Linked DNA regions of Homo sapiens: regions 2 and 3 are each linked to region 1. The links come from fine-mapping of genetic effects on gene expression. A gene starts in region 1. Each other region holds a variant in brackets. All regions are shown on one strand. Distances are between the middles of the regions.

Region 1 (10,118 bases):
GAAATACAAATTAAAACCACCATACACCATCACTACCCATCCACTACAACAGCTAAATAAAAACAAACTGACAAACCAAGTGTTGACAGGGATGTGGAAAAATCACAACCCTCATGCATTGCTCATGGAAATGTTAACTCGTATATAGCCTGCAGAAGTTAGGCAGATTTGTTTCTGTTTTTTTAAACAAATACTTAAACAATATAACCCAGCAATTCCATTGACACAGGAACCCTTCTGGAGTGATGGACATGTTTTAAAAGCAGCCTCTGATGACAGCTGTGCAACTATATAAATTTACTAAAACTGATCAAACTTTGTACTTAAATTGAGTAAATTTTATGGTACGTGTATTATACCTCAACAAAACTGTTTTTTAAATGTTAACTCAATTTTTTAAAATCTAACTAGAATTTCTTAACTTTGGGGAATATACTACTAAAGAATGTTAAAGACTCAAAAAGCACCTTCAAAGGTCAGCAACCCTTCTTTCTGCACAAAGCAGAATTATTTTTTTGATGAGTCTTTTACTCAAGACTTTCCAGAACATTTTGAGATGGAAAGGATTCTATTAGCCCACTCAATCTCATTCATAGGATTTATATAGAACAAATTATTTTATTCTGTTATTTCTTCATTTTTATATAGTTTTATGATCATTTATTCATCCAACAAATATTCATGGAGCACCTGATACATAGGCACTATATCTGAGCCAGATCAACTAGTGTACTAATTTCTGTTTTCTGCTCTTATCAGTTTAATCCTTCAATTTACAGGATGACATATTTATCCAAATACATCAAATAATGGGAATCAGGGCATTATAAAAAAAATTTATAGGCTGGGTACAGTGGCTCGCCTGTAATCCCAGCACTTTGGGAGGCTGAGTCGGGCGGATCACAAGGTCAGGAGATTGAAACCATCCTGGCTAACACGGTGAAACCCCGTCTCTACTAAAAATACAAAAAATTAGCTGGGCGTGGTGGCAGGCGCCTGTAGTCCCAGCTACTCCGGAGGCTCAGGCTGGAGAATGGCGTGAACCCGGGAGGCGGAGGTTGCAGTGAGCCGAGATCGCGCCACTGCGCTCCAGCCTGGGCGACAGAGCAAGACTCCGTCTCAAAATAAATAAATAAATAAATAAATAAATAAATAAATAAATAAATAAAAAGATTTATAAGCACAAATCATGAAAGCCAGAGTTAGTTGCTCATTCATTTTTTGTTTTTTTCAGACAAAGTCTCACTCTGCCCCTGCTGGAGTCCAGTGGCATGATCATGGCTCACTGGAGCCTCAACTTCCCCCAGGCTCAGATGATCCTCCCCAGTAGCTGGGAAGACAGGCGCGTGCCACCACGTCTGGCTAATTTTTGTGTTTTTTGTAGAAATGGGGCTCCAACATGTTGCCCAGACTGGTCTCAAACCTCTGGACTCAAGTTATCCTCTCACCTCAGTTTCCACAAGTCCTGGCATTACAGGCATGAGCCACCAAGTACAGCCTGTTTGCTCATTTTTTAAGAATTCTAAACTATACTGAAAATACAAATATTAGTCCTCAGTTTTCCTTCTAAGGAACTGGTAGCAATCCGTAAGTAATTTTGGTAGCATACTAGAATTTCTGCGTCCCACACTGGGCTAGTTTTACTCAGTTTTGATGGGGTGTCTTCTGGCCTCAAGGCCTTGACTGTAGCCTTCTTAGATTTTTAGCTATACATTTCTTCAAAAATTCTGTGAGTTTTGAGTCTTTTCCTTTTCTCTCCTCCATATCCATATATCCTTATCTACGGATCTATATGTTTTCCTTTGTGTTATGAAATTAAGATCACATAATATACCCCACTTCACATCTACCTTTTATTTAAATGTACACCATGGAAGTCCCTCCAAGTCAATTAGTCGTAACATTCTCTTTTTTTTTTTTTCTTTCTGAGTTTAGGAATGGAGGTTTAATAGGCAGAAGAAAGAAAGGAGAACAGCTTTCTCTAGTGAGAGAGAGGGGCTTCTGAGAGGAAAAGCAATTAGTTGTAACATTCTTTTTAATGACTGCATAATATTCCACAGTATGGAAATATCTGAAGTCATCAATTACCCTATTAATGGGCATTTAATTTGCTTCCAGCGTTTTGCCACTACGGATAGTACTACAACGAATGCCCTAGTACTACACGCTCATGTTTAACACTTTTTTCTGTGGGACACAGGTCTAGGAGTAGGATTACTGGGTTCTTTTAATTGTATTAAAAAATAAGGCAGGGGGCCATGGCTCACGCCTGTAATCCCAACACTTTGGGAGACCGAGGCGTGCAGATCACAAGGTCAGGAGTTCAAGACCAGCCTGGCCAACGTGGTGAAACCCCATCTCCACAAAAATAAGCCAGGCATGGTGGTGAGGGCCTGTAACCCCAGCTACTCGGGAGGCTGAGGCAGAAAAATCACTTGAACCCGGGAGGCAGAGGTTCCACTGAGCTGAGATCACGCCACTGCACTCCAGACAGGGCGACAAAGTGAGACTCCGTCTCAAAAAAAAAAAAAAAAAAAAGATAAAATACCACTTCCTAAAAGGACAGAAATTCACATTTCCATGCATTGGTAACTTGAAAAGATGAAAATTACTATAAACGTAACACTACTAGCAATAAATTTGACAACAATGAAAACAGTTAACTTCAGGCTTAATTGCTAAGTCATATCGAAACAAAAGCTATTCTCTTTAAAACAGTATTAGACATTCAAATGTACATGACAATTCTGCCGTCACAGACTCAAGTTCATATTCTATTACACAAACACTTGTGATGAGCACTAGAGGATAAGCTATATTTGTAGCAATGTTATGTTACCCATTATCTTTTACACTTTAAGATTACTTAGAAGTATTTTCTTTTTTTTTTTTTTTTTTTTTTTGAGACGGAGTCTTGCTCTGTCACCCAGGCTGGAGTGGAAGTATTTTCTTTCCTATGTTTTTAATATTTAAAACCCAGTAACATTAACCATGCTATTTACTTTTTTTTTTTTTCTGAGACGGAGTTTTGCTCTGGATGCCCAGGCTGCAGTGAAATGGCACGATCTCGGCTCACTGCAACCTCTGCCTCCTGGGTTCTAAGCGATTCTCCTGCCTCAGCCTCCCTAGTAGCTGGGATTACCAGCGCCCGCCACCACGTCCAGCTAATTTTTTGTATTTTTTTAGTAGGGACAGGGTTTCACTACGTTGGCCAGGCTGGTCTCGAACTCCTGACCTCAGGCGATCCACCCACCTCAGCCTCCCAAGGTGCTAGGATTACAGGCGTGAGCCACTGAGCCTGGCCTATTTAATTATTTTAAAATCTGTTTTTTCTTTCTTTTTTTTTGAGAAGGAGTCTGTCTCTGTCGCTCATGCTGGAGTGCAATGGCATGATCTCGGCTCACTGCAACCTCCGCCTCCGGGGTTCAAGCGATTCTCCTGCCTCAGCCTTCCAGGTACCTGGGATTACAGGCGAGCGCCACGATGCCCCGCTAATTTTTGTATTTTTAGTAGAGACGGGGTTTCACCATGTTGGCCAGGATGGTCTCAAACTCATGACCTCAAGTGATCCACCCGTCTCGGCCTCCCAAAGTGCTGGGATTACAGGCGTGATGCACCGCGTCCGGCCTAGCTATTTTAAATTTCTTAGCTTAATAAAAATGTTTCGGCCGGGCGTGGTGGCAGGCGCCTGTATTCTCAGCTAATCCGGAGGCTGAGGCAGGAGAATTGCTGGAACCTGGGAGGCGGAGGTTGCAGTGAGCCGAGATCGCGCCATTGCACTCCAGCCCGGGCCGACAACAGCGACACTCCGTCTCAAAAAAAAAAGTTTCTGTCTTCAGAGTTTTCTAATTAGACTAGAATAATATGACTACTCTGCAAATGAGAGTAGAAAACAAACAAAAGGCCCTCTAACAATAACACTAACCTTGCTGCTTAGCCAAAACTAAGTTGTAAAACAGCCAAAGGCTGCTATTTGTACTGTTTTCCAGGGCGTTTTTCGAAAGACAATAAATTCCGAATACCTAAAATCATTCTAACAAATGGACAGAACAGGCTTTCAAACCCAACACTAAAGCAAGGTAAACAAAGCTTCACACTTGGCACTTTACCGAAATTAGATCCAATTATAGATATATGCCTCAAAAAATAGCGACTAGGTCATCCTGAATTCATCGGGTTCCTCTATATTAGCAGTTCTGTGGAGTGAACGCCCAACTCAGCCTTCAGATGAATTCCAAAACCGTACTTTCCTAAACTTAATCACCACAGAAAAAACACAGTCCCGCTCCACTGGCAGAAGGCAGTGACGCTGCAAGCTTCCAGGCATGTTAAATTCCCAATTCACGGGATTAACAGGAACTGTCTACACAAGTGCTAGTCATTACCTTCCAAACCCCCGAGACAGAAAAAGATGGCACTACGGTAAGAGCCATTACTGGTGAAAAGTCTCCCTTCTCCGTCCAGCGCACCCCAAGAGGGACTACAGTCCTAGAACAGGACCTGTGCTGCTAAGTATCCAGACTTGCCCCAGGCGACCAGTTCCCGGGACAGTAAAAAGGGGACCGTGTCGCCCCGCCCACCCTGAGACGCTCGGCACCCAGCTCCGCCTCTCTCCAGGAACCGCTGCATGGGACAAAAGCCACCCGCCAGCTTGCCTTGCCCTGCGGCCGGGCAACTAAAGAGAATCTCGGCGCTCACCGTCGCGACTCTCTCCTCAGCCATTTTAGCTCAGCCCACCGCTGCGCGGCCGGAAGTCGGCGGTTTCCCAGACGACGAGGCAAGCGGAAGTCGTAGGGCTGTGGAGGACTGTGAGGAAGCGGGGGAAGGAAGTAAATCGCCGAGTGACCTAAGGAATCAGGGGGAGGATTAGGGTCTGCTCCACAGAAGGCTTACCTCTGAAAGAGTCGGGGAGGGAATGCGCAGCCACTCGCTGCCTTTATCCCGAGAAGCCCCTAACACCCCTCGCCGTGGTCTGTACATGGTCTGTACCTCCGGCCGCGCTGGCTGGTAGGCCAGCCACCTGGGATGGCAGCCTAGTTCTCCCGCCACCTTACCCTGCCCTGACTCTAATCTGCATTTAATTCAGTCCTTCTTCCGGGAGATTTCGGCGGAGAATTTCTTTCTCGCCTTAGGTACAAAACTCCCCGTTTCTTGGCTGTCACTATCGAACTGAGGTACTCACCTTATCAGCTTCCCACTCTTGTTTACTCCAGAGTTTGCAAACATGCTCCTGGTGGGCTGCATTTGAACGGCAGTCTTTTGATTGGAAATATTTAAAAGTTAGGAGATTTCACAAGAAATCGGCCATGGGATAAAGAGACGACAGTCGGCGTTTTCTGCAAGGCAGTGAAATAGATCTGAATAGCGGCTGCGACTGTAGATAACTTCCCTTCCTAACATACTTAAGGCGTTCTCCATTACCTGTCTGGCCCCCGGTGCGGTGAATTAAATGTTTAGTGTTTCTAAACTAGGAAAACGTGTGGGCTTTGGAATCAAACATGAGTTCTGAATTTGACTACTGCATGACCTAAGCCCGTCGTTTCTTTGAGCCTCATTTATTAAAGTGCCGGGAGCTGTGTGATGAACAAAACGGAGGATCCCTGCACCTGAGCACTGACATTAGCCCCAATTCATACTTTTAAGTCTCGCCCTTGTAATTTAGACATAAAATCTGCCTCTCCCAATTCATTAACTGGGAAAGCATTTAAGACAAGTTTCTCCAGGCCTCTAAGAGAGGGAGAACCCCACTGACAATTAGAGTTACATAGAAGAAACAAGTACGGTAATCTATCCAAATACAAGGGGAAAGGACAGCAATAGAATAACAGCTCTTCTAAGTATTTCAGTAACACTCTCTCTTTTAATCTTTATAACAATCCCATGAGACTGTTGGTCTCCCACTTTTTTCAGATAAATACTCTGCCTTTCATTTATTAAAAATAAAATTTTCCAGCTTGGCCAGCATGGTGAAACCCCGTCTCTACTAAAAATACAAAAAATTAGTCGGGCATGGTGGTGCCCGCCTGTAATCGCAGCTACTCGGGAGGCTGAGTCAGGAGAATCACTTGAACCCAAGCGGCAGAGGTTGCAGTGAGCCGAGATCGCATTTCTGTGCTCCAGCCTGGGCGATAGAGGGAGACTCCGTCTAAAAAACAAAAATTTGCTGGGCTCGGTGGCTCACGCCTGTAATCCCAGGACTTTGTGAGGCTGAGGTGGGCAGATCACCTGAGGTCAGGAGTTCAAGACCAGCCTGGCCAACATGGTGTAACCCTGTCTCTACTAAAAATACAAAAAATTATCCGGGCGTGGTGGCCGGCTCCTGTAATCCCAGCTACTAGGGAAGCTGAGGCAGGAGAATTGCTTGAATCCAGGAGGTGGAAGTTACAGTGAGCTGAGATCATCCCATTGCACTCCAGCCTGGGCAACAAGAGCAAAACTCTGTCTCAAAAAAATTTTTTTTCAGAGGCAGGGGTCTCACTATTGATGTCCAGACTGGACTTGAACTCCTAGGCTCAAGTAATCCTCCTGAGGCAGGAAAATAGGGTCTGGAGGTAGGGAACATAAGGCCAATTCACACTTCAGCTATAACAGGTAATATTCTGTCCATAGGGCATAGGCCATAAATGTCTTTGTAACTTTACTTCATCTTCTCTATTTACATAAGGCATACCCGAAGTAACCATGGAATCCTCTGGGGTTATTTAAACTCCCCAAAATTCTGTAACGGAGCCACTGAACTTCTAAGCTCAGGCCCGCTCCCACACTGGAGTGTACTTTCATGTTCAGTAAATTCCTTGTCCCTTCCTTGCTTTGTTTGTGCATTTTGTCCAATTCTTTTTTCAAGACACCAAGAACCTGGACACCCTCCACCTTTAACACTTCCACCTCATCCTCTCAAGTAGCTAGGATTACAGGCACCAGTCACCATGCCTGGTGCTAAATTCTCCACTTTTCAGAGATTAATTAAACACCTTGCCTAAGTGAGCCGAGATCGTGCCACTGCACTCCAGCCTGGGAGACAGAGCAAGACTGTCTCAAAAAAAAAAAAAAAGATATAAAGATGAAAAATTATTAATTTCTAATCCACAGTGCTTAGTTTTTTTGTTTTTGGGACAGGATCTCGCTCTGTTGCCCAGGCGGAAGTGCAGTGGGACAATCACGGCTCACTGCAGCCTCTACCTCCCAGGCTCAAGTGATCCTCCCACCTCAGCCTCCTGAGTAGCTGGGACTACAGCTTCATGCCACCACACCCAGCTAATTTTTGTATCTTTTGTAAAGATGGGGTTTCATCATGTTACCTAGGCTGGTCTCAAGCTCCTGAGCTCAAGCAATCCAGCCAACTTGGCCTCCCAAAGTGTGGAATTACAGGCGTGAGCCACCCCGCCCAACCCACAGCGCTTAGTTTCATGCAGTTTTTCAGTATTCCAGTCCTCTTCATGGGCGGGGTTACTACGCAACACTGGCAGTCTAGGAAGAAATCATTCCAAAGGATCAAAAAAAAAAAAAAAAAAGGAGGAATTGAAGCTAATATCTTCTGCCCTATTCTTTTTATCTTCTACCCTATTTTTTCTTTTAACACATATTCTTTTTGCCACTTTCAAAAGACTGATTCTCAATCTGACATGTCACTCCCTGTTCTCTTCAGTTACCCTTTAGTTCTGCTGATGTGGGGAATCCCCAACACTCCTCTACAGAGAATATACAACATCCAGAACAAAATTTTCCAAAGGCTTCTTCACTAAAGTGTAAGAAACTACTTTCATCTTTTCCTTCAAAGATGCAACAATTTATTTCAGGGACTAAATGTCCAAGTTCCCTTTAACCACCAGATCAAAAAACATTCTAGAAAAACTCCTCTATTATTTCCACCAAATGATAAAAAGTAGAAGCCATTACGTCTCCTTTTTCAGAGCAAAGAACTACAGACTCAGGCCTAGTCCATTTACATGACTGTCTGGGGGTGCCTGCTGCAGTCAGGAGGGCCAGGTGGCAGCTTGGTCAGCGGTGAATAGCGAATAGACTGCAGCATTCTCCTTATAAAGGATTTACTCCTCAATTCCAAACCTTTCCTCAAGGGATTAACAGAAAAGCCAGTAGATGGTGAAACTTAAGTGGGGAATGGATTACAAAGGCTAACTGGTATCTGTAGATGGCTATATGAACATGTAACTTGCAAATACAGAAGAATACATAGTTAAAGTGTTGTCTAGACATCTGGATGAAGTTTTCATTTTATTTTATTTTATCTTATTTTTAGACAGAGTCTCGCTCTATCACCCAGGCTGGAGTGCAGTGGTGCGATCTCAGCTCACTGCAACCTCCAGGTTCAAGTGATTCTCGTGCCTTGGCCTCCCAAGTAGCTGGGATTACAAGCGTCAGCCACCACACCTGGCTAATTGTTGTATTTTTAGTAGAGACAGGATTTCACCATGTTGGCCAGGCTGGTCTCAAACTCCTGACCTCAAGTGATCTGCCTGCCTTGGCCTCCCAAAATGCCAGGATTACAGGCATGAGCCACCATGCCTAGTGTGGATGAAGTTTTAATAAGGTATAATAATGTCCTTCATATCAGAGGTGTGGAAGAAAAGGAAGAGGATGGGGAAATGAGAGAAGAGCATCTTTTCTGGGGGATTTTTAAAATACATATTTCTACACAATAAAGATTTGTTTTTCAAATAAATAAATTACTCTATAGCACCCTTATATACTGTCAGTTCAATAAGTTGTTAACATCTTTTGGAAGGCATCTGGCATTATAAATCCTTAAAAATGTGCATACCCTTTGATCAGTTCTATTTCTGAAATTATATGCTAAGGAAGCAATCAAGAAAACAAAGATTTATAAGAAGAGTATTTACTACACATTTAGTTTGGATAATTAAAAATAATACTTTAAAACTGGAAAGAAAGCTGGGCCCAGTGACTCGCGTCTATAATCCCAAGGCCCAGTGACTTGCGTCTATAATCAAGGTAGTGCCACACTCCTGCCTGGGCAACAGCACGAAACTCTGTCTCAATAATAATAATAATTTTAAAGGAGTCCAAGTGCGGTGGCTCATGCCTGTAATCCCAGCACTTTGAGAGGCCAAGGTAGGCAGATGGATCCCTTCAGGTCCGGAGTTTGAGACCAGCCTGGCCAACCTGGCAAAACCTCATGTCTACTAAAAATACAAAAATTAGCAAGGTGTGGTGGCAGGCGCCTGTAATCCCAGCTACTCGGGAGGCTGAGGCAGGAGAATCACTTGAACCCGGGAGGTGGAGGTTGCAGTGAGATGAGATCGCGCCACCACTGCACTCCAGCCTGGGCGACAGAGCAAGACTTTGCCTCAAAAAAAAAAAAAAAAAAAAAATTTTGGTTCAAGGTAACACAGGAAAACAAGATTTTCTATTCACTGGGGAGAATGTTTTGCTTGGAGAAAAAAGTTCACATTTATTTAGCTTATATGTTCCCTATGGATAATAAGGAGTCACTGAAGGTTTTAGGAAAGGAACAAATATCATAAAACCTAAGTTTTAATTATGTTTAGCTGTGCGGTTGTCTTGTGGGATCTAATACTCACTGAAAAAAGGGAGATGTGGCCACCTCCATGGATCCTGCCATGCCATGAGAGTTCTGACTCTACGCCTCCAAAGGAGGAAAACCAATACTGGATTTTCTGGAAAAGGAGCCTCTTATTTATTCTCCTGAGCTATAGAATTTATAAGGAACTATGTACTGGAAATTACACCTGAAGGCTAGTCACAGGGAAGAAGAAGTCTACACTTCTGCTTGGAGAGTACAGGGCCACGGAGACTACTGGTCCACACTCCCTGGCAACTTCTCCTTTTCAGAATAATGCTGTCTGTGTGGTTTAGGTGTATCTCCCACTGAGTATCAACAGCGGAAGCTAAGTACTATCTAAGTCACATAAACAAGGCAGTAACAAGTGAACCAGACAGGCATCCCCACCTCAGACAGTCCCTTAGCTATTCCCATCCTGTCAGTCCACAGTATGACTCAAGTTGTACATCCCTGTCTCTCACTATCTCAGGTCTCAGTCCTCAATACAGCACTTTTGTTTTTTTTTGAGACAGAATTTCACTCTGTCACCCAGGCTGGAGTGCACGATCTCACTGCA
Region 2 (10,118 bases), 21 kb before region 1:
AATTAGCCGGGCAGTAGTGGTGCGTGTCTGTAATCCCAGCTACTCAGGAGGCTGAGGAAGGAGAATCGCTTGAACCCAGGAGGCGGAGGTTGCAGTGAGCCAAGATAGCGCCACTGCACTCCAGCCTGGGCAACAGAGTGAGACTCTGTCTGAAAAAAAAAAGAAAACAAATAGTAATGAAAAAGCAGACGTGGACAAGAATCATATGTAAAAAAACCTAGAGTATTAATAATGCCTAGTAAAGTATTAGTTCATTCAGTTTCTTAAAATTTCAACTCCCTTGTTGTGATTACTTCTTCTAGAACAGGGATTTGCAAACTACAGGGCTTACAGGCCCTGTATATTTTTGTACAGCTCTCAAGCTAACAGTGGTTTTTTTATTTCTAAAGGGTTATAAAAAATAAGATAACAAATATGATGTAGAGACTGTATGTGGCCTACAAACCCTAAAATATTGTTGGCCCATTACAGAAAAAGTTTGCCAACCCCTGTCTAAAATCTAACTAGGCAAGCTAAGAAAAGTGTGATAAGATTTCCAAGTATTATCACAGATGAAAAAGAAAGAGAACCTTTCAAGATTCATACTGGTGGCCAGGCGCGGTGGCTCACGCATGTAATCCCAGCACTTTGGGTGGCCGAAGCGGGCAGATCACCTGAGGTCGGGAGTTTGAGACCAGCCTGACCAACATGGAAAAACCCCATCTCTACTAAAAACACAAAAAATTAGCCAGGCGTGGTGGCACATGCCTGTAATCCCAGCTACTCAGGAGGCTGAGGCAGGACAATCGCTTGAACCCAGGAGGCGGAGGTTGTGGTGAGCCGAGGTCACGCCATTGCACTCCACCCTTGGCGACAAGAGCAAAACTCCATCTCAAAAAAAAAAAGATTCATACTGGTATCTGCCTTCGGATCAGCGGTGTCAAAAAAAACTGGTATGGGCCGGGTGCGGTGGCTCACGCCTGTAATCCCAGCACTTTGGGAGGCTGAGGCAGGTGGATTACGAGGTCAGCAGTTTGAGACCAGCCTGACCAACATGGTGAAACTCCACCTCTACTAGAAATACAAAAAAAAAAAAAAAAATTAGCTGGGCATGGTGGCGGGCACCTGTAATCCCAGCGACTTGGGAGGCTGAGGCAGGAGAATTGCTTGAAACTGGAAAGCGGGGGTTGCAGTGAGCCGAGATTGCGCCACTGCACTCTAGCCTGGGCAATAAGAGCAAAACTCCACTTAAAAAAAGAAAAAAAAAAACTGGTATGAATCTTTGTCATACCAGTATGAATTAGTTCTGTGCATTGCCATAGGTATAAATGCCATGGGTATAAATTAAAAACCTTAGATGGGTCACAAAGCTCTGGATACCAAAAAAGATGACACCAAGGATACATTCTGCATGTTAGTACTACCACTGTCTGCCTGCAAGTTTGTAACACATATGGTATGTCACCAAAGATACAGAGAAAGGGAAATACAAATGGTTTTTAAATATACACATGATGATCAACCTTGCAGTAAGAGAGAAATTAAAAAATAAAACTCAGGGCTGGGCACGGTGGCTCACGCCTGTAATCCCAGCACTTTGGGAGGCCAAGGCGGGCAGATCACAAGGTCAGGAGTTCGAGACCAGCCTGGCCAATATGGTGAAACCCCATCTCTACTAAAAATACAAAAAATTAGCTGGGCATGGTGACACTCATCTGTAGTCCCATCTACTGGGGAGGCTGAGGCAGAAGAATTGCTTGAACCTGGGAGACAAAGGCTGCAATGAGCCAAGATCATGCCACTGCACTCCAGCCTAGGTGACAGTGAGACTCCATCTCAAAAAAAAAAAAAAAAAAAAAAAAACTCGACAAAATACCATTTTTCATCTATCCAAAGATAAAAAAGTTAATATGCTGAGTTGAACATCTGCCTCCACCAGAAGACCAACATGTCCAAGAGAGTTGTTTGCTCTTGACATGAGAAGACACATGGAACACACCTAAACCTGACCCACAGCCTGCAGTCAAACCCAGCCAACCCACAGCTGATCTGAAAGCCCATGAGCAATTAATATTTGTTTGTTGGGGGCCACTGAAATATTGAGGTTGTATGTTAAACATCACTACCATAGCAAAAGATAACCAGTGTATGAAGTATGGGGAAGAAGGAATTCATGTTTTATCACTGAGATATAAACTGCCACACTCTGTTTAGCAGGCACTGTTAGTTGCCTACCCAACATCCTGCCTCTCATTTTTATTATTATGGCAATCTCTTACCTTGCAGGCTTCATAATCTTTCCGGATATAATGAAGATGAATCAACCAGTTCTGCTTCTCCAAAATAGGAAACTCTGGAGCTAGGCAGCATATTTTGACAAAACAAACAACACAGTCATTAGATTTTCTCCTTTAGCACTGTCCTCATGTCTAAACTAACCATAAACATACTGCAATATCACATTAAAATTTTGATGCTACTGACTACAATAATATATTATAGTGCATCAAAAATTTATAGACTATTAAACTAAGATACTTGTTCTACTACTACATGTTGAATACATATCTTGAGTTTTTAAAGCTTGTAATATCAGTTTCTCATCAAATAATGACTGGGACTGAAAAACATAAAATCATCCTTCGTCTCTTCTCAATCTCTCCTTCCCTGGTTATAGAAGGTGAACAGAAAGACTTTCTAAAGGAGATTGCAGGAATGTCACTAAGGAAATATATCAGGGGAACCTGCCCCCAATATTTCAATGTAGGTTCTTTCTATTTTCTATAAGCGTCAGCCGGCTAAGAAATAAGAGTACGAAGAGAGGAATTTCACAGCTGGGCCTCACATATATCGGTAGGACCGTGATGCCCACCTGAGCTGCAAAATAAGCAAGTGTTTATTAAGGATTTCAAAAGGGGAGGGGGCCTAAGAACAGTGAGTAGGTCACAAAGATCACATGCCTCAAAGGGCAAAAAGGAGAACAAAGATCACATGCTTCTGAGGAAACAGGACAAGGGCAAAATCAGAAACTCCTGATAAGGGTCCAACAAAGATCACAAGGCAAAAGGCAAAAGCAAAATTACTG[A/G]TAAGAGTCTATGTTCAGCGGTGCACAAATTGTCTTGATAAACATCTTAAACAACAGAAAACAGGGTTTGAGAGCAGAAAACTGATCTGACCTCAAATTTACCAGGGTGGGGTTTTTTCCCCACCCTAATAAGCCTGAGGGTACTGCAGGAGACCAGGGTGTATTTCAGTCCTTATGTCAACAGCATAAGACAGACATGCCCTATAGACCTCCTCCAAGGAATGCATTCCTTCTCCAGAGTATTATTAAAATTCCTTGCTAGGAAAAGAATTTAGCGATATCTTCCCTACTTGCATGTCCGTTTATAGGCTCTCTGCAAAGAAGAAAAATATGGCTCTATTTTGCCCAACCCCACAGGCAGTCAGACCTTATGGTTGTCTTCCCTTGTTCCCTAAAATTGCTGTTATTCTGTTCAAGGTGCACTGATTTCATATTGTTCAAACACACGTTTTACAATCAATTTGTACAGTTAACACAATTATCATAGTGGCCCTGAGGTGAGGTACATCCTCAGCTTACGAAGATAACAGGATTAAGAGATTAAAGACAGGTGTAAGAAATTATAAGAATATTATTTGGGAACTGGTAAGTGTCCATGAAATAATCACAATTTACGTTCCTCTGCCACAGCTCCAGCCGGTCCCTCCGTTTGGGGCCCCTGACTTCCCGCAACAGAAATATACATATAAGATAGTTAATATCACTTCTGGCCAGGTGCAGTGGCTCACGCCTGTAATCCCAGCACTTTGGGAGGCCAAGGCAGGCAGATCACGAGGTCAGAAGATCGAGACCATCCTAGCAAACATGGTGAAACCCTGTCTCTACTAAAAATACAAAAAATTAGCCGGGTGTGGTAACCCGCACCAATAGTCCCAGCTACTTGGGAGGCTGAGGCAGGAGCATCACTTGAACCTGGGAGAAGGAGGTTACAGTGAGCCGAGATCGCGCCACTGCACTCCAGCCTGGTGAAAGAGTGAGACTCCGTCTCAAAAAAAAAAAAAAATCACATCTGATGATCAGAGTACCACAAATATTTTAAATAGTTAAACACAATCTTTAGAAATAGCTCAAATGAGAACATTATGCTGTTGCCCAGAAATGAGAAGTCAACGATGAAAAAAATCTAGTTGAGTCATTGAAAATGGCTCACAATACAGAAACCATAAAATGAGTTACCTGCCCACTGAAATCAGAAGTTTAAAATATGGTCAAATTCATTAAGAATTACTTTTCTGTGGTAACAAGGAGTAGAAAGATCCAAATTAACCCAAGAATAGTGAAGATCTCAAGGAAGGAAGAGGGAAGAACAGAATTATGAAAAGACAGAAAGGAGACTTCAACTCTTTAATGCCTATTTCTCAAAAAAATAAAAAGCTTTAAAGTAAACATGACTAAATGTTTTTTATTAAGCCTAGCCAGTGAGTACATGTGTGTTTATATTATTTTTTGTGAATTTTAATATGTTGGAGACAGTCCTTTTTAAAAATGGAAAAGAGGCCAGATGTGGTGGCTCATGCCTATAATCCCAGCACTTTGGGAGACCGAGGAGGGCAGATCATTTGAGTCCAGGAGTTTGAGGTCAGCCTGGACAACATGGTGAAACCCCATCTCTACAAAAAAATACAAAAATTAGCAGGGTGTGGTGGCGCATCCTGACATCCCAGCTACTAGGGAGGCTTGGGCACCAGAATCACTTGAACCTGGTGCGGGGAGGTTACAGTGAGCCAAGATCATGACACTGTACTCCAGCCTCGGCCAAAGAGCAAGATTCTGTCTCCAAAAAAAAAAAAAGAAAAGAAAAAAGGAAAAGAAAGGGAAGAGCATGGGGAAGAGAGGAAAATGACTGTAATCCATTTCTTGATGTTCTGCAACCTAAGGAGAAACAATCTAAAGAAAACCAAAAAACTTCTATGTCCATAATATGACAGGAAGAAAAAAAAAGCTTACTGTGACTCAGAGTTAATGTTGCCTGAACACAAAAATTAAAAGGTACAACCAGACACACTGGCTCACAACTGTAATCCCAGCGCTTTGGGAGGCTGAGGCAGGAGGATCAGTTGAGCCCAGAAATTTGATACCAGCCTGGGCAATACAGCAGGACCCTCATTTCAACAAAAAATTTAATTTTTTTAAAAAAATAAAAAAGAAGTAATGCTGCTCATTGCTATCCAAGAATAGGGATTATCAATGGAATTTGTAAGAAGAAATTATAACAGAAAGTATGGATATGACTTTACATGCCAGGAACAAGAAAAAAAGTAAAATTTTAAGCAACTGACTCTTCATTTTCTGACTACACACATTTTCTTAGTAGAACCACCCTTCTAGTCGTTGGGGCCGATCTGAAATTCTTCTAAGACTTGTGTTTCCTTTCTTTTCTTCCCCTAGGCTTCACCAATGACCAGACCTTAGCCATTCACATCCTACTTAACCACTTCCAGAATCAAATCTCCTTCGAAAAAGCCACACGAGTCACCAAGCTTAAAGACATGTGAGTGTGTTAAGTGCATAAAGTGCACCGTCATAAATAGTTCCAGGGTCCGGGGGTGGTGACTCACGCCTGTAATCCTAGCATTTTGGGAGGTCCACGCAGGTGGATCATGAGGTCAGGAGATCGAAACAATCCTGGCTAACACAATGAAACCAAGTCTCTACTAAAAATACAAAAAATTAGCCGGGAGTGGTGGCGGGCACCTATAATCCCAGCTACTCGGGAGGCTGAGGCAAAAGAATCGCTTGAACCCAGGAGACGGGGGTTGCAGTGAGCCAAGATCACACCACTGCACTCCAGCCTGGGCGACAGAGCGAGACTCCATCTCAAAAATAAGTAAATAAATAAATAGTTCTGGGACAAGTAGCTTACTAAGTCATCTTGGACCAAGTCTCAACTGCATGACCCAGTCCTCTGTCACCTATCTACTAAAGGGAAAGAGTAAAAGAGAATGAGGCACTGAACCCTTTTGAGTTTATACTAAGTATTACAAACCTTAGATACTTAGTATATCACTAAGTAGTCTAAAAGAAAATTTATAAAATGTTAATTTTCAAGTCTTAGCTGTTATTAAAATCTCACAATAAAAGACAATCAGGGCTAGCTATAGTGGTTTACGCCTGTAACCCCAGCACTTTGGGAGGCCCAGGTGGACGGATCACTTGAGTCCAGCACTTCAAGGCCAGCCTGGACAAACCCCATCTCTACAAAAAATACAAAAAAATTAGCCAGGAGTGGAGGCACAAGCCTGTAGTCCCAGCTACTCAGGAGGCTGAGTTAGGAGGATTGCTTGAGCCTGGGAGGCAGAGGTTGCAATGAACCATGATTGTGCACTGCACTCCAACCTGGGTGACAGAGTGAGACCCAGTCTCAAAAAAAAAAAAAAAAAAAAAAAGGACAAGCCATGTTTTGTGTTTCTTGAGTGAAAGCTGGAGAAAAAAGTGTTCAATTTGTAAGGTAGCTCAAGAACCCAAACGCTCATTAAATGGAACTCTAGGGATTAGAAAAAGGAAAATCCACCAAATCCAGTGCTGAAGGTCATTTCACACTCTTGGAGATGTAGCTGTCCAAAAGCTAATTTTCGTTCCATCAAATATTTTAGAGAACATTTCAGTGTACACAACTGTCCTATTACCAAATGTGTGACCTGGGAAATTTATAGTTTCCTCATCTGTAAAACCAAGACTCATTCATTCAACCAATATTCGCTGGGTACCTACCATGATTCCAGGCACTGTTCTAGGCACTGGGAATACAGCAGTGAACAAAACTGACTCCCTGATTTCATGGAGTTTATAATTGAGGGCAGGGGCTACTACCACACAGGACAGATAATAAAGTATGTTACACTTATGAGTGATATTTTTCTATGGAGAAAAATAAAGCAGGAAAGAGAAACAGTGCCGGGTGGGGGGTTTTACTTTTAAATAGAAGGGTCAGGAAATAAAATACTCATTCTCATAGAGTTGTATCGTATTACCTAATATATAAAGAGGTTCAAATAGTGCCTGGTACATAGTAGGCCTTAAAGAAATGTTACCTATTATTGTTGCTGTTTTTTTGCATTTTGTTTTTGTTTTGTTTTGTTTTGTTTTGTTTTTTTGAGATGGAGTCGAGTTCTGTCATAAAGGCCGGAGTGCAGTGGCGCGATCTTAGCTCACCGCAATCTCCACCTCCCAGATTCAAATGATTCTTATGACTCAGCCTACTGAGTAGCTGGGATTACAGGCACATGCCACTATGCTCAGCTAATTTTTGCATTTTTAGTAGAAATGGGGTTTTGCCATGTCCGCCAGGCTGGTCTTGAACTCCTGACCTCAAGTGATCCACCTGCCTCAGTCTCCCAAAGTGCTGGGATTACAGGTGTGGGTCACTGTGCTGGGCCTGTTGCTGTTATTTTTATTACCATTATTATCTACTTATCATCAAAGATGAAGGAATTCTGGATACCTCAGAAATCCCTAGAATCTATGAATCCTGAATTTACAATTAGAATTTTACCTGTAAATATATAAGTTGAATTTCTGGTATTCCAAATCATTGCTCACTCCAACTCCCCCTAAAAATGGAGATACTGGTTCTTATATGCTTTCACAGGTATTATGAGAATTACTAGTTGAAAGATCCTCCACAAAACATAAGCATGTAAATGCAGAGCAGAGTCTCCCCTATTTTGCAATAAAGCACAGTGATCATCTCCAATGCTACATTTCAGGAGCCTATGTTACCACAGAGGTCAGGTAGCCAGCTGACGAGATGAAGACAAGGTAATGGCTTTTAGTGAGTTATAAAAAAGACCTCATTCATATCCCAGCTGCCACACTACCCCTCCACCATCACCAAGACAGTGGGGGCAGAAGGCTGGCAACCTAGCAACAATACTCCCTTGCCACTTCTCTTGCCCCATTCTACTCTTTTGTAACATCTCTTCCCCCTTCTTTCTCCCTTTAAGGATGCACCTGACATATTTTAAACAATTCCAGAAGTGAATAAACATGACACCTCAAGAATTCTCCCCTGTAGTTTGCCCTAGGTGCTAAATTCTCTTAGAAGAATTTCAAATTCTGCTTAGGCTCAAAAATCAAACCTTTACATGACACTTTGATTAATGCTAGGGATAGTATGCTAGCTATATAAGTACTAAGCAGAAAATTATTATGGTTCAGATTTTTCATTGAAAAATTTACTAAATAACTAAGGCTTTTGTAAATATATTGCAAGTAAAGCCTTTAAAAAAAATACTCATCAAAGAAAGGATTTCTTCCAGGACTAGCAGACATGTAGCACGTAAAAGTTTTCACATGCAGAATTTCAATCTTGATTCAATACCAGCCTTCTATGGGGCCTAGGGCAAGTTATTTCACTTCTCTGGGCCTCCATTTATCCCCCCTAAAATTTTCACCCGAAAATCCAAAGAATCTGAAAATAGTCATTCAATAAATGTTAATTTCCTCATGCCAAACAGGAATTATAACACTTTTCTACCTCAATAGGATATTTGGGGTATCAAAAGAGATAACAAATCTTGAAAAGAATATAAATGTAAGACATTTTCATTACTATCATTTTGAGCCCTGTATCAGTCAAAGCCTAACAAAAAGCCACTTGAGGATTTGAAACACAAGGACTTTAATGCAGAGAACAGGCAATGGAAGAAATGAGAGGCCCAACAGGGAATGGTGAGACAAATCAGAAGTCTGCATGAGCAAAAAACCACTACGACTCTGAGGCCTGAAGGTCGGGGAGGGAAGCCCTGTCTTCTCTTTCCTCTTGCCTTCTAATCTCCTGCCAGTTCCTCCACTTGCTAATCCAGCCAGAAACTGCTGACACGGAAGCCTGGGAAGAAAAGGAGGCTGCAAGAGTCAGCTCCTCGGCCGGGCGCGATGGCTCACGCCTGTAATCCCAGCACTTTGGGAGGCCGAGGCGGGCGGATCACGAGGTCAGGAGATCGAGACCATCCCGGCTAAAAAAAGGTGAAACCCCGTCTCTACTAAAAATACAAAAAAAATTAGCCGGGCGTAGTGGCGGGCGCCTGTAGTCCCAGCTACTTGGGAGGCTGAGGCAGGAGAATGGCGTGAACCCGGAAGGCGGAGCTTGCAGTGAGCCGAGATCCCGCCACTGCACTCCAGCCTGGGCGACAGAGCGAGACTCCGTCTCAAAAAAAAAAAAAAAAAAAAAAAGAGTCAGCTCCTCACTATACCAAAAAGAGAAGAGAAGGCAAGGAATGGATCTGAGGGCGAACAGGCCCAGGATCAAGAGAAACATCTACTCTGTTCAGGTACATAAATGATGATGAAGGAAGAGGAAGAGACTGGGCTGAGTCAGTATTGACTCAAGAATACATGCTAGAAGCTGGCCTATAATTTTTTAATTATATTGCTGCTATCCAGTTTGTTTGCTTCTCATTAGCTTGAAATGAGGAAGAAAAAAGTCATATAAAAGATTAGCTAATTATGGTTTTACTTTATAGCTTAGATTATTTTATTTCCTCAAAGCAAAATTTAACAATTATATCCTTCTTAAGGGTGTGTGTGCATGTATCTCAAAGTTTTTCTCTCTTATTATTCCACTGAATAGTCACGTAAGGCCAGTGAGTTATGCAATTCAGAGAACATTCTCACATTATAAAGGAGGAAATTAAGGCCCTAAAGGTTAAGTAAATTGTCCACATTCAACAAGTAGTTAATGGAAGAGGCAGGACTATAACCCAGGTCTCCAAGGTGACACATTAAACCAAGTTTCTGCCCAATCATAAAGGATTTTCTAATATTACAATGTAAATGTTTGGGCTGTCAATTAGACATAACTGAGCAACGCAACATTAATGATTTTAAAGCGGCCAGGCACAGTGGCTCACGCCTGTAATCCCAGCACTTTGGGAGGCCGAGGCAGGCAGATCACGAGGTCAAGAGATTGAGACCATCCTGGCCAACATGGTGAAACCCCATCTCTATTAAAAATACAAAAAAAAAAAAAAATTAGCTGGGCCTGGTGGCACACACCTGTAGTCCCAGCTACTTGGGAGGCTGAGGCAGGAGAATTGCTTGAATCCGGGAGGCAAAG
Region 3 (10,118 bases), 71 kb before region 1:
GTCTCTATTAAAAATAAAAATAAAAAATTAGGCCAGGCGCGGTGGCTCATGCCTGTAATCCCAGCACTTTGGGAGGCCAAGGCGGGTGGATCACGAGGTCACGAGATTGAGACCAGCCTGACCAACATGGTGAAACCCCGTCTCTACTAAAAATAGAAAAATTAGCTGGGCCTGGTGGCACGCGCCTGTAATCCCAGCTACTTGGGAGGCTGAGGCAGGAGAATTGATTGAACCTGGGAAGTGGAGATTGCAGTGAGCCGAGATTGTGCCACTGCACTCCAGCCTGGTGACGGAGTGAGACTCTGTCTCAAAAAAATTAAAAATAAATAAAAAATTAGCCAGGTGGTGTGGCTTATGCCTGTAGTCCCAGCTACTCGGGAGGCTGAGGCAGGAGGGTCGCTTGAGCCTGGGAGGTCAAGGCTGTGGTGAGCTATGATTGCACCACTGCACTCCAGCCTGGGCAACAGAGCAAAACTCTGTCTCAAAAAAAAAAAAAAAATCATGAAGCAGTGCTGATAATCTCTGTGGACTTTCCTTTAAATCTCAGTGCCGTCCTCATTGTTCAGTGGTTTTGAATCTGCTAGCCTGGCCTTGAATGTTGTGTCAAAAACAGCGGTTTATTGGAGTTGAGGAGCAGGAACAGATACGAAATGGCTTCTAGAAAGAATAGCCAGAGGGAGGCTCTGGTTGGAGTTGAAGAAAAAGGTTTTGGAAAAGTTGCAGAGCACCTTCCCCTGAAGTCTCTCAGTTGGGATGCTCTTTAATTCTCATATTGGAAAGGCTGTCCTATTCACTTAACAGTTCAGTAATGGGAGAGAATTTTATTCCACAAATGAGGTCACCCGGTTGAGGATATGGTGATCCAGAAACTTTTTTTATACTGTATAAAAACTCAAACAGTTTTCATCTGGCAGCTTTGTTGCAGACAACATCCCATGTCTGTTTGCCTGCACAAGGTGTGAGTGAGTAAAGAAAGTGGGGGTAGGGTCTGCTTTGGCTGCCATAGTAGCACAATACCATAGACTTGGGGGCTCAAGCAACAGAAGTTTATTTTCTCACAGTGGAGACTGGAAAGCCCCAGAACAAGGTTCCAGCAAGGTGTGGCTTCTGGTGAGAAGTCTCTTCCTGGCTTGCAGGTGGCCACCTTCTCAATGTGTTCCCACATGTCCTGTCCTTGGTGCATGCGGTGGGGGGAGAGAGATTGATCTCTCTCTCTTTTCTTATAAGGCCACCAGTTCTATCTGATTAGGACCTCACCTCACCCTTATGACCTCATTTCATATTAATTACCTTCCAAAAGCCCTATCTCCAAATAAGCCACATGGGGGTTTGGGCTTCACCATCTAAATTTGGGGAGGTGACACAAACGTGCAGTCCGCAGCAGAGGGAATGAGATGTAGCAGCTGCATAGGTGCCTGACGGCTGTGACACAGTTCTTTTGTCAGCCTCTCAGTTCTGGGTACATTATGGCCATACCCTCCAGAGGCCTTAGCCCTGGTGACATGCCTTCTGCCGCACACCTCCAGACCAACAGCTTTCAAAATTAGATTTGGATTCCAATATTTTGTTGAAATGATTAGAATCAGCCTGAATGTACTGTCCTGGGGTGCTGTTGAGGTTCTGTGGGGAAAGGAACGGGGCTCCTGATGGACTTCGTGTTGCTTGCCTCCAGGTTCTTCTTTGCGGTCCAGTTGGTCCAAAGCTACATGAGCTTCTTGATGACAATGTCTTTGTTCCACCAGAGTCATTGCAGGAAGTGGATGAGTTCCACCTCATTTTAGAGTATCAAGCAGGTAAGGAAATGAGTAAGTAATGGTGGCAAGACCAGTCAAGGGGCTGTGTATTGTCAGATTGGGGTGTGACTGTGCCGGAAATTTATCTTTGTAAATTAGCAGGATCCTGTTTTTGCCATACTGAAAGTTTCCTGACCTATTGGTTCTACTGAGCTGATACTGGCCGTTGTCTCAAGGGAGACTGAGTATTATAACATGGAAGAAAATTCCCAGGTCTACAAGCAGAATTGCTCCGAACCCAAGATAAATCAGGTCATAGGAAAGCAAGCATCTCAAATAAAAGTGAAAACGTGTTAAACACACATATATAAAGTTTTCCTTTATGACTAAGACAAGAGAAAGGCAGGTAGCATCCATTCAACTCTGTGCTGGATTCTGCCCTAGGCCTTTCTGACTGACTCTTCCAAGCTGCTTGGGGTTGATTCCAAGCTTCTGGCAAGTTTCTCTGGAGCATTTTATTTTTCCTTGGGTGTGTGAATGGAAGTGTTTTGTATTTAACATCACTATATTGTTTCCCATCAGATGTTCTAATGTTAATAAATCCACATCCACTGCATCCCATCCCCTCTTCCCAGCAGATTTTATATGTTACGTAGATTAGGCATCTGGTTTCTGAGAGAATATTAAATACTTGGACATACTTTGATCCTGTGTATTTCCTGCTGTAATTTTCCCTCTGCTCAGAACTCAGACTCTTGAGTTTCTGATTCAACACATTGTTAATACACATTAAAGACTCAAGCATCTAAACAGACTAATTGGTACCTTAAAGCAGCACTTAATACTCTTCAGTGAACTACTTCCAAGTCAATTAAGAGAATCTTCTCTACTAGAGTAATTAACTTTAACATAAGATATGAACTATGTTATTTCTTGAGAATTATGCCTTTCTCCAGGTAGAAAAAAGAGTTGTAACATGTTCTGGTTCTCTTTCGGGTGCTTACTAGAATCAGTTGGGAATTAAAGAAGGATAGGGTCTGAAAATTAGGGACACAGCGTTGACGTAGGCAATTCATACTTAATGCTACACAAGTTTTTGAGTTTCTCAGCTTTAGTTTTCCCAAATGGGAAGTAAGAGTAATAGTTTTTACTGCCTGATCATTGTGGTAAGGATTAAGAGATTGGTTGGTGTGCGGAAACATTGTGAGCAGCTTGGATGAAAAGATGACCTGGCCGCACGTGGTGGCTCATGCCTGTAATCCCAGAACTTTGTGAGGCTGAAGCGGGTGGATCACAAGGTCAGGAGTTCAAGACCAGCCTGGCCAAGATGGTGAAACCCCGTCTCTACTAAAAATACAAAAATTAGCCAGGTGTGGAGGCGGGCGCCTATAATCCCAGCTACTCAGTAGGCTGAGGCAGAGAATTGCTTGAGCCTGGGAGGCGGAGGTTGCAGTGAACTGAGATTGCACCACTGCACTCCAGTCTGGGCAACAGAGCGAGACTCCGTCTCAAAAAATAATAATAATAAATAAATAAAAGAATGACCTGACTGTGGACTGGAAGGGTCTGGAATTGCTAAAGATGAGCCCCTGAGGTATTGCTGCCATGAGTTCCAGATTCGTGTCAGTTTTTTTGGCACCCACAGCAGGAACTGGGGACCTTTGTGATTCCTGGTTTGTCATTTTTCCTGGTGACTACAGAGTGGAGAGTCTTACGTCTTCAGCAAGACTTTGATGTTGTATTGGACAGCTGTGCCTCGTATGTAGTTAAGGAGACAGCACAGTTCACCGCACAAAGAGAGTGTCTCCATCCTTGGGTTTATAAGCTTCACACTTCAGTTTTTCTTTCCTATGCCTCTTCTGCATACAAAGCAGTGGACTTCCATTAAACTTTGTGAGGTGACATTTTCCTAGGTCCAAGGAGGGAGCCTAGTCTAGTGGCAGTAGCCCTGGGCTCAGCTCTCTCAACAGAAATCCATTCCCAGCTTGTCTCTGACCTCAATAGGGAAATTCCAAGGGATTTGTCCATTTTTTTTTCCACATTCTCTCTTACCAGATCTCCCCAGAGAAGCCCATTGTCAGGCTTGGGCTGGGAATCCAGTGAGTCACTACGCAGAGGTTTTGCTGACTTACTGGCTGAGGGCAGGATGATACATTGAGAAGAGATTGCTTACAGGAATGAATACAACACTTTGTGAGGAAAGAGGGGCGCTAACTACCATTACAGGCAGAATTAGATCCATTTGCATCTGCCCCCTGCATGGCCTCTCCAACGGGGCCATGAATATGCTGGAGGTGTTTGTGTCTAGCCTGGAGGAGTTTCAGCCAGACCTGGTGGTCCTTTCTGGATTGCACATGATGGAGGGACAAAGCAAGGAGCTCCAGAGGAAGAGACTCTTGGAGGTAATGGCACTGTTACAGAATTTCACAGATCTCAGCTGGTGGTTTTCTTCAGGTTCCAGCCTCTCTTGGCATCTGCTGCCTTGTTTCCTGTGGAAACAGCAAGCAGCTCTGCACGGTTCTTCTCATCCTTGCCTTGCAGAAGAGCCTGTTTATTTTTGCCTCTGTCACTTCCTGAAGAAATCA[G/A]TGTATTTTCAATACAGTGTGGCTCCTTTCTCCTAGGTTCAGTTAGGTCGTGTTTCCTAGCAGTGTCACTATTCAAGGGTTGAGTCCACGTCTTGCTCTCTGGAGAATGTCAATGTAATGTATTTTTCCCATCGTACAGAGTCTTTGTTGATTTGCAAAATGTTGGATTTGGGGTTCATACCCATATTTTTTGTTGTCATGGGCATTTAGGTCATCAGTCTGTTCTCTTATTTGCTTGTTCTTTTGTTAATTCATTCCCATGGCTATATGCCAGACACAGCATGATGCAGAAGGAATACGACAGAGGATGACACAGGCCCTGCCCTCAGCTCACAGTTTACTGCCAGAGATAGACACTTGGAAAAAGTAATTGCAGGCCGGGCATGGTGGCTCACGCCTGTAATCCCAGCACTTTGGGAGGCTAAGGCAGGCAGATCACCTGAGGTCAGGAGTTTAAGACCAGCCTGGCCAACATGGTGAAACTCCGTCTCTACTGAAAATACAAAAATTAGCCAGGCGTGGTGGCGGGTACCTGTAATCCCAGCTACTCGGGAGGCTGAGGCAGGAGAATCGCTTGAACCTGGGAGGCAGAGGTTGCAGTGAGCTGAGGTCGCGCCATTGCGCTCCAACCTGGGCAACAGAGTGAAACTCCATCTCAGAAGAAAAAAAAAAAAAAAAAAGGAAAAAAGAAAAAGGAATTGCAAAATCATGTGCCTCAGTCCTGTATTAGGGTACAGTGGTGGCCCCAGAAAGGAGGTAATCAAGTCTGCTTAGGGGTGGTAGGATTAGGAAAGGCTTCATGTTTAGGGAGGAACTAGCACTTGAACTTGGGTCTTTAAACAGTCATTCCTCTAAAGCAACTCACATAGAAGCAACTGGAGCAGCTAGATAGTCTGATCCTTTGGATCAGGTGCCCAGAAACCACTGATGGGCAGCAGGGAAGAGGAGATGCAGTGAGCTTGGCTGTTGGGAAGAAATTCAGCCTGCTTAAGTTCCAACTGAATGAAAGATGCTCAGGGCAATGCTGTGAGGAAGAATGTGCTTTAAACAATGACAGCCTATACTGTCTGCAGGGCGTGCGTGCTGCACACTGTATGCTGGTATTTGGAAGTCATGCTGCCATTCTGTACTGTCTCTCCTGTGTTTGAGAGCTCAAGTAGGGCTCTCCTGGGACTCAGGGGGAGCTAATTACCTTGAAAAAGGCATATAGCACCCATACTATGTTTCTGTTTCTTGGCTGGGTTTGGGTTTAGGTTTTTGGTTTGTTTCTTGCAGTGCCATGCTGACCTTAGGCCATTGTTGCTGGGGTCTCCTCAGCCAGAAACCAGCCTGCTTGGAGCCAAGGCTCCTGTGAGGTGCCTGAAAGTGCCCCCACAGCTAGGAGACCTAAAGCCTCTTCCTTTTCTTCCCATTGTGTTGACTGGGTTTTTCCAGGGGAGGAGTGGGGCCAGTTAAAAGCTCCCCATGCCAACCGATTCATCTTCTCTCACGACCTCTCCAACGGGGCCATGAATATGCTGGAGGTGTTTGTGTCTAGCCTGGAGGAGTTTCAGCCAGACCTGGTGGTCCTCTCTGGATTGCACATGATGGAGGGACAAAGCAAGGAGCTCCAGAGGAAGAGACTCTTGGAGGTAATGGCACTGTTACAGAATTTCACAGATCTCAGCTGGTGGTTTTCTTCAGGTTCCAGCCTCTCTTGGCATCTGCTGCCTTGTCTTAGGTCCTGGCCTCCCAGGGACATATCTTGGCAGCTGGCTGTGGAGCTTGCCTCCTGCTGCAGTGAGGCACCTCACTGTATCCCTTCAGATGTGGGCAGCAGCTTGAGTAGGACAGGGCAGAACATCTTCTTGCCTGAGCCTCTGCATCCTGTGCTAAACCGACCATGGCTGCAAGCTGCAGGGTTTGTAGTTTGTGTCCTTTGTGTTATTTGTATCATCTCACTTCACATCAGCTATGCTGCAACTCCTACAGATTCGTACAGCAGTCGAAGTGAACTGCCATCTCTGATTCTGTATCCCTGATGGCTCTGCACAGCCTAGTCTTCCCTGGTGGGAAGAGTGTCCCTTGTCCACAGAGGTGGTGGGGACCCACATTGCTTGTAGCTCCCGTGAGCATGCAAAGAAGGCCATTACCAGGAGGAACCGCCTCTCAGGATCTGATCTTTTCTTCCCTCTTTCTTGACTTCCTTCTATTTCTAATGGCAGTGCTTATCTTCTTCTCTTTGCAGGTTGTAACCTCCATTTCTGACATCCCCACTGGTATTCCAGTTCACCTAGAGCTGGCCAGTATGACTAACAGGGAGCTCATGAGCAGCATTGTCCATCAGGTAACCTCATGGGACCATCGTTTGGCCCTGATCCTCATAGAGCCTTGCAGAGAAGCTTTTTTGTGCAGTGGGACCATCTGTTTGGGCTCAGGGACTGGCTCACTGACATGTAGGTTTGTGTCACTCAGACCCAAGTCCATGGAGATCCAAATAAGGATCCAGGACTGTTCTGAAACAGCAGTATCTCCTACTAGGTTAAAGTTATGGCAGTGTAACTGACAGATTGTTGATCATATTTCTCCTCTGGAATGGAAAAGTTGAAAGTGAATGGAAAAAACTGAAAGCCCAGCTCAGCTGCTTTCAGTTGAACTTCAAGAAGCTCAAAGCAAAGAAACTTTGAGGGAACCTCCCTCCTTCCTCAGGCATCTGGGTGTTCAGTGCCTGCCTCTGGGCAGCAGCATTGACTAGTATAAATCTGAGCAGGTGAAGCTTCAGAACACAAGCTCTGGAGACCTGGGTTCGCATGCCAGCCTTGCACTCACGGGCTTCATGAACTCAGGCAAGTTACCTCACCTGGCAATCTAGTGTTACCTAATTTTAATTGGTAATATATTCATTTGGTTAAAAAATACCCAAAAACTATGAAAAGATATACAATGAAGTCTCCCTTCTACTTCCTCCCCTTCCCTACTTGCACCCTTCATCAGTTTATTTCCAGAGTTCTTTTGTACAAGTATAAGAAAATACAGAAATATATCCTGATTTTGTTTTCCATCCCTTTTTACCCAAAAAGATAGCATAGCCTACTGAATACTCTGTTCTTCACTTTGCTCTTTTTTTCACTAAATATATCTTGGAGATCTTCCTGCATCACTAACATGGAGAGTATCCTCTGTCTTTTCATAGCCATATGGTTAAAATGAATGTGTAGATGTACCTCCGTTTACTTAACCTGAACCTTCTGGATGGACATATTGGTTATTTACTGCCCTTTGCTGTTACACACAGTGCTGCAGTGAACAACTTGATACATGATTTTGTTTTGCCTGTGAACAAGTCCATATTTAGGAGAAAGTCTCAGAAGTAGAACAGCTGGACTGGAGCATAAAAAAGCACTTGTAATTTTGAGATTGCCAGATTGCCCTCCATAAGAATTATACCAGTTTACTTCCCACTGGCAATAATTACAAATACTTGTTCCCTCATATCCTTGCTACCAGAATGTTAAAATTTGCATTTATATCAGTCTGACAGATGAAAAAATGGTATTTCAGTATACAGTCATCCCTCGTCATCAGCGGTGTGTGGGGCGGCGGGGGCGGTTCCAGAACCCTTCCCAGATACTAGAATCTGCAGATGGTTAAGTCCTGCAGTTGGCCCTGTGGAATCTGTGGATTAGACAAGTTGGCCCTCCCTATCTGCAGGTTCCACATCCTTGAATACTCTGTTTTCCATCTGAAGTTGGTTGAAGCCATGGATATGGAGGGCTGACTGTCGTTGGTTTTGTTTTTTTTTTTTTTGATAGACTTCATTTTTTTTTTATGGTAATATTAGGTGCATAGCAAAATAGAGCAGAATCCAAGAGAGTTCCCATATACTTCCAGTCCCCTCACACACAAGCCTCCCCAACTACCAGCAGCCTGCACCAGAGTGGTACATTTGTTAAGCTAGTGAGCCTACACAGGCACGTCATCAGCACCCAAAGTCCATAGTTTACACTTGGGTTCACTCTTGGTGTTTTTCAGTATAGCTTTTGTTTGGGTTTTTCTTCTCACCTTTAAAAAAATGAGCCATTTCTATTTCATTTTCTCTGTAACTGTCTACTTAACCCTTCTGAGGCTTAGTCTGTACAATGGAGGCAGTCCCTCCTTCCCTCAGAAGATTACAGTAAGAATTGGATGAAATAAAGCCTTTAGCTCAGTGCCTGACACAGAAGAACATGCAGTGAAGGAAAGCTGCTATTGCTCCAACAAAGATGTAGGCCATTAAATTTTTAAAACCATTTTATACATGCACACATACATACAAGGACTCCTCTCTCCTGCAAAAATTGTTACCTTAAGTGTGGTTCTCTGGTTCTAAGGAGGGAAGTGCTAAGTAAGAAAGACAGGGAGGTGGATATTGTGGTTCCCCATCAGACAGAAAACACGGGCACCTGTTTGGTAATCTTTTTCTTACAGTGTTATTGCTAAATTCAGACAGTCTTCCTAACCCACACCTGCTTTTAAAAAGCTTAGCTCTAACATGAAACTGTATGCTTTTTGCTTCTTGGTGTTTTGTATAAAAAAAATCATTATAACCCTGACAGTATGTTGCTTGAGGTCTCCATTTTACTGGTCTAATACTGCTGACATTCAGGAACTGAGAGCCATGCCCCATCAGTGGTAAGAGTATCTCCTATGTGTGCAGTGGCAAAAGCTAGGGACCATGGAAAGAAACACAAAATATAGACACCTCTGCCTTTTGTCTTACAGTGGCATATCACAAAAGACTGCATCTGAAACAATGTTACTGCAGCTTTCCAGTTTCTCCCAAATGATGATGAAGGTGAAGATAGGGGTGTGATAGCTAAAACAGTGACTTCAGGGCCAGGGAGTCCTGTATCAAGGAAGAAAGCTGCCTGCCTGTGTTCCCTGTCATTTAGTCACTGGCTGTGTCATAAGACATCTTAGGAGCCAGGTTATCTCCATCAGAAAGATACCTGTTGTTGTTTTTGTTAGCAGGTCTTTCCCGCGGTGACTTCCCTTGGGCTGAATGAACAGGAGCTGTTATTTCTCACCCAGTCAGCCTCTGGACCTCACTCTTCTCTCTCTTCCTGGAACGGTGTTCCTGATGTGGGCATGGTCAGTGACATCCTCTTCTGGATCTTGAAAGAACATGGGAGGAGTAAAAGCAGAGCCTCGGATCTCACCAGGATCCATTTCCACACGCTGGTCTACCACATCCTGGCAACTGTGGATGGACACTGGGCCAACCAGCTGGCAGCCGTGGCTGCAGGAGCTCGTGTGGCTGGGACACAGGCCTGCGCCACAGAAACCATAGACACCAGCCGAGTGTCTCTGAGGGCACCCCAAGAGTTCATGACTTCCCATTCGGAGGCAGGCTCCAGGATTGTATTAAACCCAAACAAGCCAGTAGTAGAATGGCACAGAGAGGGAATATCCTTCCACTTCACACCAGTATTGGTGTGTAAAGACCCCATTCGAACTGTAGGCCTTGGAGATGCCATTTCAGCCGAAGGACTCTTCTATTCGGAAGTACACCCTCACTATTAGGAAGATTCTTAGGGGTAATTTTTCTGAGGAAGGAGAACTAGCCAACTTAAGAATTACAGGAAGAAAGTGGTTTGGAAGACAGCCAAAGAAATAAAAGCAGATTAAACTGTATCAGGTACATTCCAGCCTGTTGGCAACTCCATAAAAACATTTCAGATTTTAATCCGAATTTAGCTAATGAGACTGGATTTTTGTTTTTTATGTTGTGTGTCACAGAGCTAAAAACTCAGTTCCCAAATCCCCAGTTTATGCAGCGCCA

Alleles and levels. Alleles are on the strand shown, and positions count from the first base shown. SD is a standard deviation of normalised expression in the study named. Not every link is listed here.
For the expression in stomach of the gene that starts at base 4,743 in region 1, allele G in region 2 goes with a lower level than allele A (small effect, 0.28 SD a copy in GTEx).

Evidence for each region. PIP is the estimated chance that this variant, and not a neighbour inherited with it, causes the effect. A credible set is the group of variants that fine-mapping cannot tell apart.
Region 2: its variant is the best candidate, but not a certain one, in a credible set for the expression of BBS4 in stomach (GTEx, PIP 0.72).
Region 3: its variant is the best candidate, but not a certain one, in a credible set for the expression of BBS4 in whole blood (TOPMed, PIP 0.83).

Annotation. Positions count from the first base shown.
Region 1 is chr15:72,680,832-72,690,949 of GRCh38, reverse strand. It overlaps BBS4 (Bardet-Biedl syndrome 4), which reads right to left and starts at 4,743. Exons shown (of 16, transcript NM_033028.5): 1 at 4,699-4,743. The coding sequence starts at 4,722. HIGD2B (HIG1 hypoxia inducible domain family member 2B) reads left to right here and starts at 4,768. Exons shown (of 3, transcript NM_001350932.3): 1 at 4,768-5,132.
Region 2 is chr15:72,701,920-72,712,037 of GRCh38, reverse strand. BBS4 (Bardet-Biedl syndrome 4) reads right to left here. Exons shown (of 16, transcript NM_033028.5): 3 at 2,259-2,338. Among named protein-coding and RNA genes, the nearest start is that of BBS4, 21 kb to the right of the region's middle. RefSeq lists a silencer at 5,454-5,654. The variant A/G (reference allele first, on the strand shown) is at 3,065.
Region 3 is chr15:72,752,082-72,762,199 of GRCh38, reverse strand. ADPGK (ADP dependent glucokinase) reads left to right here. Exons shown (of 7, transcript NM_001365225.1): 4 at 1,673-1,793; 5 at 5,753-5,949; 6 at 6,546-6,644; 7 at 9,305-10,118. The coding sequence ends at 9,859. Among named protein-coding and RNA genes, the nearest start is that of ADPGK-AS1, 26 kb to the left of the region's middle. The variant G/A (reference allele first, on the strand shown) is at 4,319.